Linked DNA regions of Homo sapiens: region 2 is linked to region 1. The links come from fine-mapping of genetic effects on gene expression. A gene starts in region 1. The other region holds a variant in brackets. All regions are shown on one strand. Distances are from middle to middle. Region 1 holds the start of GYS1 (glycogen synthase 1). Region 2 overlaps FTL (ferritin light chain).

Region 1 (5,334 bases):
ACCTCAGGCCCACTTCTCCCCAGCTCTGCCTGGCTGGCTGGCATTCTTTTCTGAGACAGAGTCTCGCTCCGTCGCCCAGGCTGGAGTGCAGTGGCCCAATCGCAGCTCACTGCAACCTCCGCCTCCCGGGTTCAAGCGATTCTCCTGCCTCAGCCTCCCGAGTAGCTGGGATTACAGGCACCCGCCACCACACCCAGCTAATTTTTGTATTTTTGGTAGAGACGGGGTTTCGCCATGTTGACCAGGCTGTCTTTCGATCTTGCTCTCTTTCTCTCTGGGTCTGAGGACCTTGGCCTCTTGGATCTCCGTCTCAGTCTGTCTCATACTTGCCATCTGTCTGTCCATTCGCCCATGTCTGGGATCCACCCACCCACTTCCAGGCCCTGCATCTGTCTGGGTGTCCTATCACGCCTCCTTCCTGTGTCCAAGCCTGCCTCGCTCTCTGGCTGGGGCTGTCCACCCTGCACCCTCTCCGTCTGTGGCTCCCACCCCGATGGCAGGCTGTCCACCCGCTTCTGCCCTGGGCTGGGCCACGTCCCACCTTGCAGCCCTTGCTGTTCATGGAATCCAGTGTCCTCTTCAGGGCCGGGGTGGGGGCCTCCAGCAGTTCCACCTGGGTCCTCACGCCCTGCTCCGTGTACGGCCCCACCAGGAAGTAGTTGTCGCCCCATTCGTCCCCTGTCACCTTCGCCTTCGTCTGCAGCACCGTGTAGATGCCACCCACTGTGGGCCCAAGCGTGTGAGGGCAGGCCCCGGCCGAGGTCCATAGTTCTGGGGCCTGGGGTGGGGTGGGCCGGGGATGTAGGGGGCACTCAGGCCCCAGACCTCTAGCTCAGGGGGAAGAGGGGACTGGGAGCCCATAGTTTGGAGTAGGGGTTGGAAGCTTGGATGAGGGGAACACGAGGGCTGGAGGGCAGTCCTCCTGGGTCTAAGGGAGAAGGGGGCTGGGGTCAGGACCCTGAAGGAGGAGGGGGCTCAGGCTAGACTTCTGGGTCTGAGAGAGAAGGGGCTGGGTGCCGGGACCCCTTGGTCTGAAGGAATTAGGCACTGGGGCTCTAAGGATGGCAGAGCTGAGGACTGACTACCCGGACTCAGGTTCCCGAGTTCCCAGCTCACAGGAGCTGGGTTTAAATCGCAGCCAGGCTCCAAAACCCAGTGAGGGAGACCCCCTCATGGCCAATCCAGCTTCTCACCATTGCCCAAGAGAAGCCTGCATGGTCATTCCCTGCCCCCAGGGACCTTGCTGACCTGCCTCCCAATTTCCTCTCCCTGACTAGGGACACCAGCATGCAGGGCTCTGCCTCTCCCATGACCCTATCCCAGACCCAGGAGCCCCAGCCCCCAGCCTCCTCCCATCCTGGAGCCCAGGCCCTGGCGATACCCGGCTGGGTGTTCACGGGCCCCCTCTCCTCCTGGGAGACACAGTCCCTTTCTCCTCCAAGACCCAGCAAAGCAACCCCCCAGACCCTGCTCTTTGAGGTGTGAGATTGGCTTGTTCCTGGGGATTTCAGCCCCAGCCTTCTCCAAGGCCAGAACCTCAGCTTTCTGAAGCCCAAGACACAGAAATGCAGGCTCCTAGCCCCTCCCATCCTAGGGCCCAGCCTCTGACTAACTTAGGACTTCCCAGCCTTCCCCTATTCCAGTACGCATGTGTCCCAGGCCATGGGCTCCTCTACTCCTAGGAACTAATAGCTCAGGCCCTCAGCTCCTTCAAAGCCCAGGCATTCATTACAGTCTCCAGCCCGTCCCATCTTTATTCTTAAGCAGCCAGATCCTCAGGTCCTCCCACCGCCGCTCAGGCCTCCTATCTCCCAGTCAGCTCTCTCTCAAATCTGGAGTTTTATCCCCTAGACCATGCTGTTAGGGTCATAGGTCTGAAACCCCGGCAGCTTCCCAGGTTTGCACGCAGAAATCCCATCCCCCCATCCCCTTCCCTGTTCAGGACCCAGGTATCTAGTCTCTCGGAAGCCTGCCTCCAGGACCTAGGAGTCTCATTTTAGCGCCCTCTTCCCTAGGACCCAGAACCCGGGCTTCCAGCCTCCTTTCATCTTAAGTCAAACGAACCATCCCTCTCCCACCCACCTCCGGCTTCCCAGCCCCTCCTCAAGGACACAGCCTCCTTGCCCAGGTCACAAGGGTTCCCCTAGTAGCCCCGTCCTCCTACAACTCAGAGTTCCGGGCCCCCATCCACTACTGTCCTTCTCGTCAAGGGCCCCGACGCCTGGCGTGCTCACCCTTGTTAGCCACCTCCCAGGCCACTTCGAAGAGCACTGCGTTCTCCAGGTCGAATTCATCCTCCCAGTCCTCCAGTCCTGGCAGTGAGGACATGGACAAAGTGCGGTTTAAAGGCATGGCTGGCGCAGGAAGGGGGGCTCCGGGGATCTCCAGGTAGGGACCCCGGAGGTGTCTAGGGAATGCACCAGGTAGGGTGCGGGGCCGAGTAGCTGGTGCCCGACGGGAAGCTTGCAAGACGCTCGGCTTCCTATTGCAAGACCGCACCCCTGCCCCGAAGCGTTGGGACCTAGGCAGAAGGAGGCCGCAGCGTCACTGAGCCCACTGGCGCCCCTGCAGTGAAACCTCGCAGCCGCCAGGAGGCGGTGGCCGCCCCCCCCAGCCAGCGCCATTGGCCCACGCCCGGGGGCGGGGATTTCCGCGTGTCCTCATTGGTGGAACGGGTTGGAGTCGCTGTGTCCCGGCCCCGCCTCGGCCGTGAGACCTCCAGGGGGCGGAGCTTGCCGCTGCGCTTTACGGAAACGAGTGGCCTTCAGCTCTGTCAATCTGGAGCTGGAGGCCTCAAAGTGGGGAGGAGGAGGAGGGTGGGATAAAGAGGAAAGGAGCGTGGAGGACGTGTGGTTACTCAAAGAACAGCTAAGAATTTTGCAATCGGCCTGAGCGGGGCGGTGGTGGGGCTGAGCAAAAGGAGGAGGAGCCAGGAGACATTGGGAATGGACCCAGGAGTTCCGGACGCCCGTCTTCCAGCGCAGCCTCGGTGGGAGGGCGGGGCATAAAGTCCCGCCACGCCCCCACAATATTTACATATTTATGAGGAACCATCGAGATCTTTGAAGAACCAGCTAGCCTAGAGGAGCCAGAACATCTCGCTCCTCGCGCGTTTCCGTTTCCGCTAGGACTCTGGCAGTTGGTGAGCATCATGGCAACCGTTGTAAGTGTGGGTGCATGGAGGGTGAGGAGCGAGCTAGCAGTCTCGAGTTTGAGAGAGGAGGATGCTGGAGGCCCTGACTCCTGGGTCTGAGGGAGGGGGGATCTGGGGGTTCAGACTCCTGGGTCTGAAAGAGGAGGAAGCTCGGCCACCCAGATCTGGGGGAGAAGGGGACATGGGGGCTGGACTTCTGGATCTGAGGCGGGGAGGGGGCTGGGATCCCAGAATCTCGGGTCTGGCCCCATCATGCTATAGGAACTCCAACTTTCAAAATCATCTTGGCGCAACGGCCGGTTCCGCAGTCCTTGGCGCCAGTGTGTGATGAGGAGGGTTGTAGGACCTTGCGCTTCGAGCCATTTGGGAGCCTTGGATTGTTAGTGGTGCCAATGGCACTTGAGTTCCAAGCTGGAAGCACAGGCAGGTACCTGTTCAGTGTGTCTGAGAGCGCGAGGGCGCCTAGTGAGCCTTTAGTGGGAAGAAATTGTCGAGGAACAAGAGAGTCTTAGTGGAGAGGACTGAAGGATTAGGGACCCAGAAATCGGGATCTTGTCATGCTACCGTTTTGGCCATTTTCATATTTCCAGTATTTCACACGGGCTACGTCTCAGTGTAAATGCTCAATAAATTATCACTTGAATATTTGAATGAATGAATACATGTGAATGAAGGAGAGGCCAGGAAACTTGGCCTGGCACCTGCTCAATTACCTGAATAAAGAAGCGATTTTGGCCTGGCGTGGTGGCTCATGCCTGTAATCCCAGCACTTTGGGAGGCCGAGGCGGGCGGATCACTTCAGGTCAGGAGTTCGTGGCCAACATTGCGAAACCCCGTCTCTATTAAAAATACAAAAATTAGCCAGGTGTGGTGGTGCAGGCCTGTAATCCCAGCTACTCAGAAGGCTGAGGCAGGAGAATCGCTTGAACCTGGGAGGCAGAAGTTGCAGTGAGCCAAGATCGCGCCACTGCATTCCAGCCTGGGCGACAAAGCGAGACTCTGTCTCCAAAAAAAAAAAGGTAATGTGACCTGAACTTAGGGACTGGGCTGGGCTTACAGGTGCCTCAATTTCCATGATGAGCCCAGTCAAGATGGAGGAAGGGAGGGGGAGAAAGTTGTTGGTAGCTGGGGATGAGATTTGAGTCTGTTGCTGTCACCAGGGCAAGGAGGAGGAGGAGGTGGATAGGGAAGTAGAAGAGGAAGGCTATGACCAGAACTACCGTGGAGAAAGTATTGGAAGTATGAGGGGACGGTGTGTGCTGAGTTTTGAAATGACCTTGGTTTTCATGGGAACAGCGGGCAGCAAGGTTTTGGAGAGACTTATGATGAAAGAGAAAGTCTTTATAGGAGACAGTCCTTGGTAAGGGGCCTGTTTATGTTGAGAGAGCTACATTTGGGATTCCTGGATTCATGTCTTTTTTGTGGGGTGGGGATGCCTAGTCTTCTGCTTGTAGTCTGGGGGTAATGTTCTATGCTCCTGGGTTCCAGCTTCCTATAGGAGACGGTAGGTGGGAAGGTTCACACAGTGACAGGGAAAGCTTGTGACCATTGATGGCCAGAAAGTCTAAACGATTGGCTCCAGAGGGAGGAGGCTTCCTCTGGGCTGGATAACTGCATGTCCTCTCTAGGGGAAGAAGAGAAGAAAGACCTGTGGGCTGGGCACAGTGGCTCACGCCTGTAATCCCACACTTTGGGAGTCCGAGGTAGAAGGATTGCTTGAGCCCAGGAATTTAAGACTAGCCCTGGCAACATAGCGAAACCCTGTCTCTACAAAAAAATAAGAAAATTAGGCCGGGTGCGGTGGCTCACACCTGTAATCCCAGCACTTTGGGGGGTCGAGGCGGGCAGGTCATGAGGTCAGGAGTTTGAGAGCAGCCTGGCTAATATGGTGAAACCCCGTCTTTATTAAAAATACAAAAAAAATTAGCCGGGCGTGGTGGCACATGCCTGTAGTCCCAACTACTCTGGAGGCTGAGGCAGGAGAATTGCTTGAACCCGGGAGGCGAAGGTTGCAGTGAGCCGAGATCGCGCCACTGCACTCCAGCCTGGGTGACAGAGTAAGGCTGTGTCTCAAAAAAAAAAAAAAAAGAAAAGAAAAGAGAAGAAAATTAGCCAAGTGTGGTGGGACACACCTGTAGTCCCAACTACTTGGGAGACTAAGGTGGGAGGATTGCTTGAGC
Region 2 (5,294 bases), 25 kb before region 1:
GAGCCACTTCTTCCGCGAATTGGCCGAGGAGAAGCGCGAGGGCTACGAGCGTCTCCTGAAGATGCAAAACCAGCGTGGCGGCCGCGCTCTCTTCCAGGACATCAAGGTAACTAGTGTGTGGGTAATGGACTACATCTCCCAGCAGGCCGTGCGCGCGAGGAGCCTTGATTTGAGGGCGTAGGTGTCGCGTGGGCTTCTGGGAGATTGAGTTCGGTCTTGTGAGCCCTCTTAACCGCTGGAAATAGAGGCGCACCTCGTGCAGTGCCCACAACACGCGGCAGTCCACACCGCTGCGTGGTCTTAGGGACGTATAGCTGTAAGAGCTAGGACAGGGTGCGGAGAGTGATAAATACAAGCTGTCACATGTCTTTGTGGCCTGGGCCTCTGACCCCCAACGACTCTTGGGAAATGTAGGTTTAGTTCTATGTGCCGAGTGTGTGTATTCTGAGCCATTTCTCCCTTCTATATAGAAGCCAGCTGAAGATGAGTGGGGTAAAACCCCAGACGCCATGAAAGCTGCCATGGCCCTGGAGAAAAAGCTGAACCAGGCCCTTTTGGATCTTCATGCCCTGGGTTCTGCCCGCACGGACCCCCATGTACGTACCCGCTGCATCCATGGCTACCCAACCATACCCCTCAAGCCTCTGCTCCCTTTGGGCAAATTTCCTTCAGAGCCTCATTTCACACCTGTCACATTTTAATCTGCAACTGGCTGCTCTCTCCCCCTCTTTTCCAGGGATTGGGTTTCTAATTTCTCCCTCTTCTCTCTCAGCTCTGTGACTTCCTGGAGACTCACTTCCTAGATGAGGAAGTGAAGCTTATCAAGAAGATGGGTGACCACCTGACCAACCTCCACAGGCTGGGTGGCCCGGAGGCTGGGCTGGGCGAGTATCTCTTCGAAAGGCTCACTCTCAAGCACGACTAAGAGCCTTCTGAGCCCAGCGACTTCTGAAGGGCCCCTTGCAAAGTAATAGGGCTTCTGCCTAAGCCTCTCCCTCCAGCCAATAGGCAGCTTTCTTAACTATCCTAACAAGCCTTGGACCAAATGGAAATAAAGCTTTTTGATGCAGCTGGTGGTTTTGTGTGTGGTGTGGAAGATGAGGTGGGATCTGTTCTCATAAAGCTTCTGGCTGGGTTGGGATGCCAGTGAAAGAGGAGTTGGCCCCATCTCCCATTTTCTTAACTGTCCTAAGACAAGAGGCTATCTGGGTAGTGTTGAACCTGAGGGTTCTCTGCTTGCCTGGCTGTTAACTGTCCCTCCCAGATGGTAGAGATAGACTCCAGGGAGTTGAATTAAGACCTAGGTTGGTATCTAGAAACAGATGTTAGGTCTCAGCCAGAAACAGCCCTATTTAACGAGTGATTATGGGGCCAGGTGGGTCGCTCACCTGATGTCAGGAGTTCGAGACCAGCCTGACCAACATGAAGAAACCCCGTCTCTACTAAAATACAAAATTAGCTGGGTGTGGTGGCTCATACCTGTAATCCCAGCTAGTCAGGAGGTTGAGGTAGGAGAATCGCTTGAATCTGGGAGGCGGAGGTTGCAGTGAGCTGAGATGGCGTCATTGCACTCCAGCCTGGGCAAAAAGAGTGGAACTCCCATCTCAAACAAAAAACATGTCTGCCTCACGGAAGTTGCGGTGAGCTGAGATGGCGCCACTGTGCTCCAGCTTGGGCAACAGAGTAAGACTCTGTCTCAAAAAAGAAAAAAGCCTCAATTCTGGGAGGCAGTTGGAATTATTAGGCCCTTTATATGGGCACATTGACGCTATTGCTATGCAACTTGCATGGCAACCGGGGGGCTCACTGAGGTCTTTGCTCCAGAGTTTAAGAGATTATGGCCCGAGCTTGAGTGATCCCAATGTGAGGCGCACACTGAGAGGAACTGGCCAGTGGAGCTGAGCAGCCAGGAACACGTGATGCCCAAGCAATGCTGGACAAGGGGTTTAGGGTTCATCACAGAAATGGGATGTGAAACCTTGGGCCGGATTCTCCAAATGGGAACTGAAGAAGCTTAAAACAGGCCTTAAAAAGCACTTGCTGTGTCCAAGCTGCAAAACTGCTGTGTCAGCTCTGACTCTTCCCCTTCTCCTTCCCCTGGGTCTGGGGCAGGGTGGTTCAAGCCTGTAATCCCAGCACTTTGGGAGGCCAAGGCAGGACGATCACTTGAGCCCAGGAGGTTGAGACCAGCCTAAGCAACATAGGGAGACCCCCCAAGTCTCTCTAGAATAAGAGGATGAGCTCAGACCAGGGAAGGGGTGG[T/C]ACTGGGGGGACGTCACAGCCAGGCCCACCAAGTGTCATGTCTGACCACACCTGGGATTCTTAAATATAGATGTATTTTTTTCATCTCATCTCCGGACACACTCCAATCACACCCCTCCTGCCCTCCCCTCTCAACTGCAAACCAAGCGGTGCAGACACAGCACAGCACACATGAGGGGCCCTCCCTTTCACCAAAGCTGAAGGCAGGGCACAGTTTGGGGATGGAAGAGCCTCGAGGTAAATGTGGGGGTTCTAGAACCCAGTGACCTCAGTTCTGGATCATGGGAAAGGGATCAGTATGCAGTAACGTGGTAAGGTTCCAGATCTAGAAGCCAGGACCTAGAACCTAGTGGTTTCACAGTGGGCAGAGCAGTTGGGAATAAGCCAGGTTAGGGGTGGGGGAAGACAGCCAGCTCTGTCCTCTGCAGGCGGATTCCCTGGAGGGAGATCTCAGATTTAGAAAGGAAGAGTAGGATCTGGTCCAGAAAGGGCCAGAAAGACAGGAAGGCATCTGGACTGAGACTGTGTGTCCTCCAGAAGGAATGAGCAGCCAAGTGGTTCTACCACCTCTTGCTTGGCCAAAGTGTAGGGGATGACAGGAGCCGGATGGAGGGATCCTCCAGGCAGAGCCTGGCTCTGACATGCCAGGGAGGGCTAGAACATCCCTCCCAGAGCCCCACTTCTGGAGTTGAAATGGAGGACCATCTGCTCTCAGTTACCTTCAAACTCTGAAAGTGCCCCGGCTCTGGACTTGATCGCCCCATTCGCAGGGACACCACGTGGTTTCCAGAACTTGGTGGCCCGCATGCCGGGCCTGAGCGTGGCCTGCTCTGTATGCTGTAGAATTTGTAAGCCACACGGGGGGCTCTAAAAGCCCCAGACCTGAAAGCACCATGCCAGGTTTCCTAAAACCTCTGGCACCACCGCAGAGTAATGGCAGATTCCTGGCCTCTGGGAAGCGGTCCAGGCCCAGGGGACTCCAGGGCGCTGATTATGCATATTCTGGAGCCAGAGAAAGGCACGGCTTTGTGGATTCTGGAGTGCAGGAACTTGGAAACTGGAGCTGGAGGGGGTGGAGTGTTTGGCGGACTGGGTGGGGGCACTGCGGGGCCACACCCAGTGCAGATCTGGAGCGGGGGTTTAGGAGCAGCACCCCTCTGCATCCTCTCTCTGGAGCAGAGAGGCAGGACAGGCGGGGAGTGTGGTGGGGCGGACTTAGTTACGCTCCTCGCCCAGGGAGCTGGTGGGGCTGAGGGGCTCGCTCGGGGTGCTGAGTGAGCTGGAGGTGGCCGTGTCCACAGAGTTGCGCTTGCTGCCGCTGGTGGAGGAGGTGCAGGACGCTCGGCGCGGCCACTCTGGTGCACGGATGTTGCGCCGGTCCTTGGCGGCCTCCTCGTCCTCATCGTAGCGCTCGCCGTCTTCCTCCAGCGGCCCGTTCCGGGGATCCTCCTCGTCCTCACTCTGGTGCGGGCTGGAGTGTCGTGACAGCGAGGGCGACGGTGGCACCGAGGCTGGCCGTGGGTAGCGGTACCCCTGGGCCTGCATACGGCGATGTGGGTGCAAACCAGGGTGAGCTGAGGACCTCACAGTCCCACCCAGGCATCCAGCCACCTCTAGGCCTTCCCACTCCAGGAGGGACCCCCACCCCACCGAAGCCCAGCCCTTTAGCTCCTGGCTAAGCAGAAATCCAGGGTCCACTCACCGCATCCGCCTCGTTGGGCTCGTAGGTGAAGTGCTCTGGAAAGGCCTTGGACAGCGCCATGTGGCGCGCAGACATATAGTACTAGGGGAAAGGAGGAGAGGGGGCAGAGGATGTGAGAGCCAGGCCCCACCCCCAGGCAGATGATGGGGGTCTTGGCCACACCCTTTATGCAGATGAGCACACTGCTGCACCCCATACAAATAATCCATCTATCTGACTCCACCCCTTATGTAGATAAGCAGACCTGTGAATGGACAGTTTCTGAGCCATACCCCTCAAACAGGGGCCGAATTCTCAAGTGAGTCTCCTCTTTGGCCACACCCTTATGCAAATGAGAACGCCTGACCAATGTTCTTTTTTTCTTTTTAAACACGGTCTTGTTCTGTTACTCTAGGATGGAGTGCAGTGGGTTTGAACAAGGCTCACTGCAGCCTCAACCTCCGGGGCTCAAGCGACCCTACCACCTCAGCCTCCCCAGTAGCTGGGACTACAGGCACGCACCATCACGCTCGGCTGATTTTTTTTTATTTTTAGTAAAAATAAAATGTTGCCCAGGCTGGTCTCTTAACTCCTGAGCTCATGCGATCCTTCCTGTTAGGCCTCCCAAAGTGCTGGGATTACAACCATGAGCCACCATCGCGATCGGCCTGGTTCATTGCTTAAAGGGACAGCAACTGTTACAAGTAGGATGAGACCCTGCACCCTGCACCAAAGACCCCTAGCCAGGAGCTGCTGATTTGCCAGGAGAGGATAGGAAAGTGGGGGTCCTACCCGGCCTAGGTATTTCCAGTCCAGAAGGTCGGAGAGGCGCTCCGTGCGGTTCCGCTGGATGATACGCTGCCGCCGGCTCTGCTGACAGAAACTGTAGAGGAAGGAGGTGAGCTGCGAGCAGGAATCATCCAGGCTGCGGAACCGCCGGTCAAGAATGTAGATACCTGTGGAGGCCAGGACCCAGGTTCAGAAAACATCCTGGGGAGATCTTCATGGTCTCCAGGACTCTGTGGCACCAGGACCCCTCCTCTCCCAGCGGCCCGAGAGCCCCCCCATTTCCTGGTGCCCCTGGTCTCCAAGGGTGCAAGCTCCTCCTTCCCAGGATCCAGGAGTCACTGTTCTCAAGCCCCCTTCCAGAATCCTCAGGGGCCTGGGCGCTGACCGTAAGCTGAGGGGTCTGCGATGTGTTCCTCCATGAAGCAGCCGAAGCCGGAGAGATTGGTGGAGATACTGGGGATTCCCATAACCGTGCACTCAGCTGCGGGAAGGCAGGAGAGAGACCCACTTAGCTTCCCTCATCGCCTACCGTCTTAATCGCAATAGACGCCTCAACACCGCC

What was found.
Region 2: its variant is fine-mapped to the expression of GYS1 in whole blood (INTERVAL, PIP above 0.99). The same link has a PIP of 0.9 or more in blood mononuclear cells.

What each region holds. Positions count from the first base shown.
Region 1 is chr19:48,990,761-48,996,094 of GRCh38, forward strand. It overlaps GYS1 (glycogen synthase 1), which reads right to left and starts at 2,549. Exons shown (of 16, transcript NM_002103.5): 1 at 2,235-2,549; 2 at 542-723. The coding sequence starts at 2,352. It overlaps RUVBL2 (RuvB like AAA ATPase 2), which reads left to right and starts at 3,127. Exons shown (of 15, transcript NM_006666.3): 1 at 3,127-3,163. The coding sequence starts at 3,152. RefSeq lists enhancers at 2,106-2,245, 2,936-3,025 and a silencer at 2,456-2,815.
Region 2 is chr19:48,965,811-48,971,104 of GRCh38, forward strand. It overlaps FTL (ferritin light chain), which reads left to right. Exons shown (of 4, transcript NM_000146.4): 2 at 1-106; 3 at 471-596; 4 at 773-1,069. The coding sequence ends at 925. GYS1 (glycogen synthase 1) reads right to left here. Exons shown (of 16, transcript NM_002103.5): 13 at 5,118-5,213; 14 at 4,736-4,899; 15 at 3,965-4,045; 16 at 2,320-3,801. The coding sequence ends at 3,478. Among named protein-coding and RNA genes, the nearest start is that of FTL, 3.1 kb to the left of the region's middle. RefSeq lists enhancers at 2,519-2,748, 4,514-5,041 and a cis regulatory region at 5,018-5,294. The variant T/C (reference allele first, on the strand shown) is at 2,263.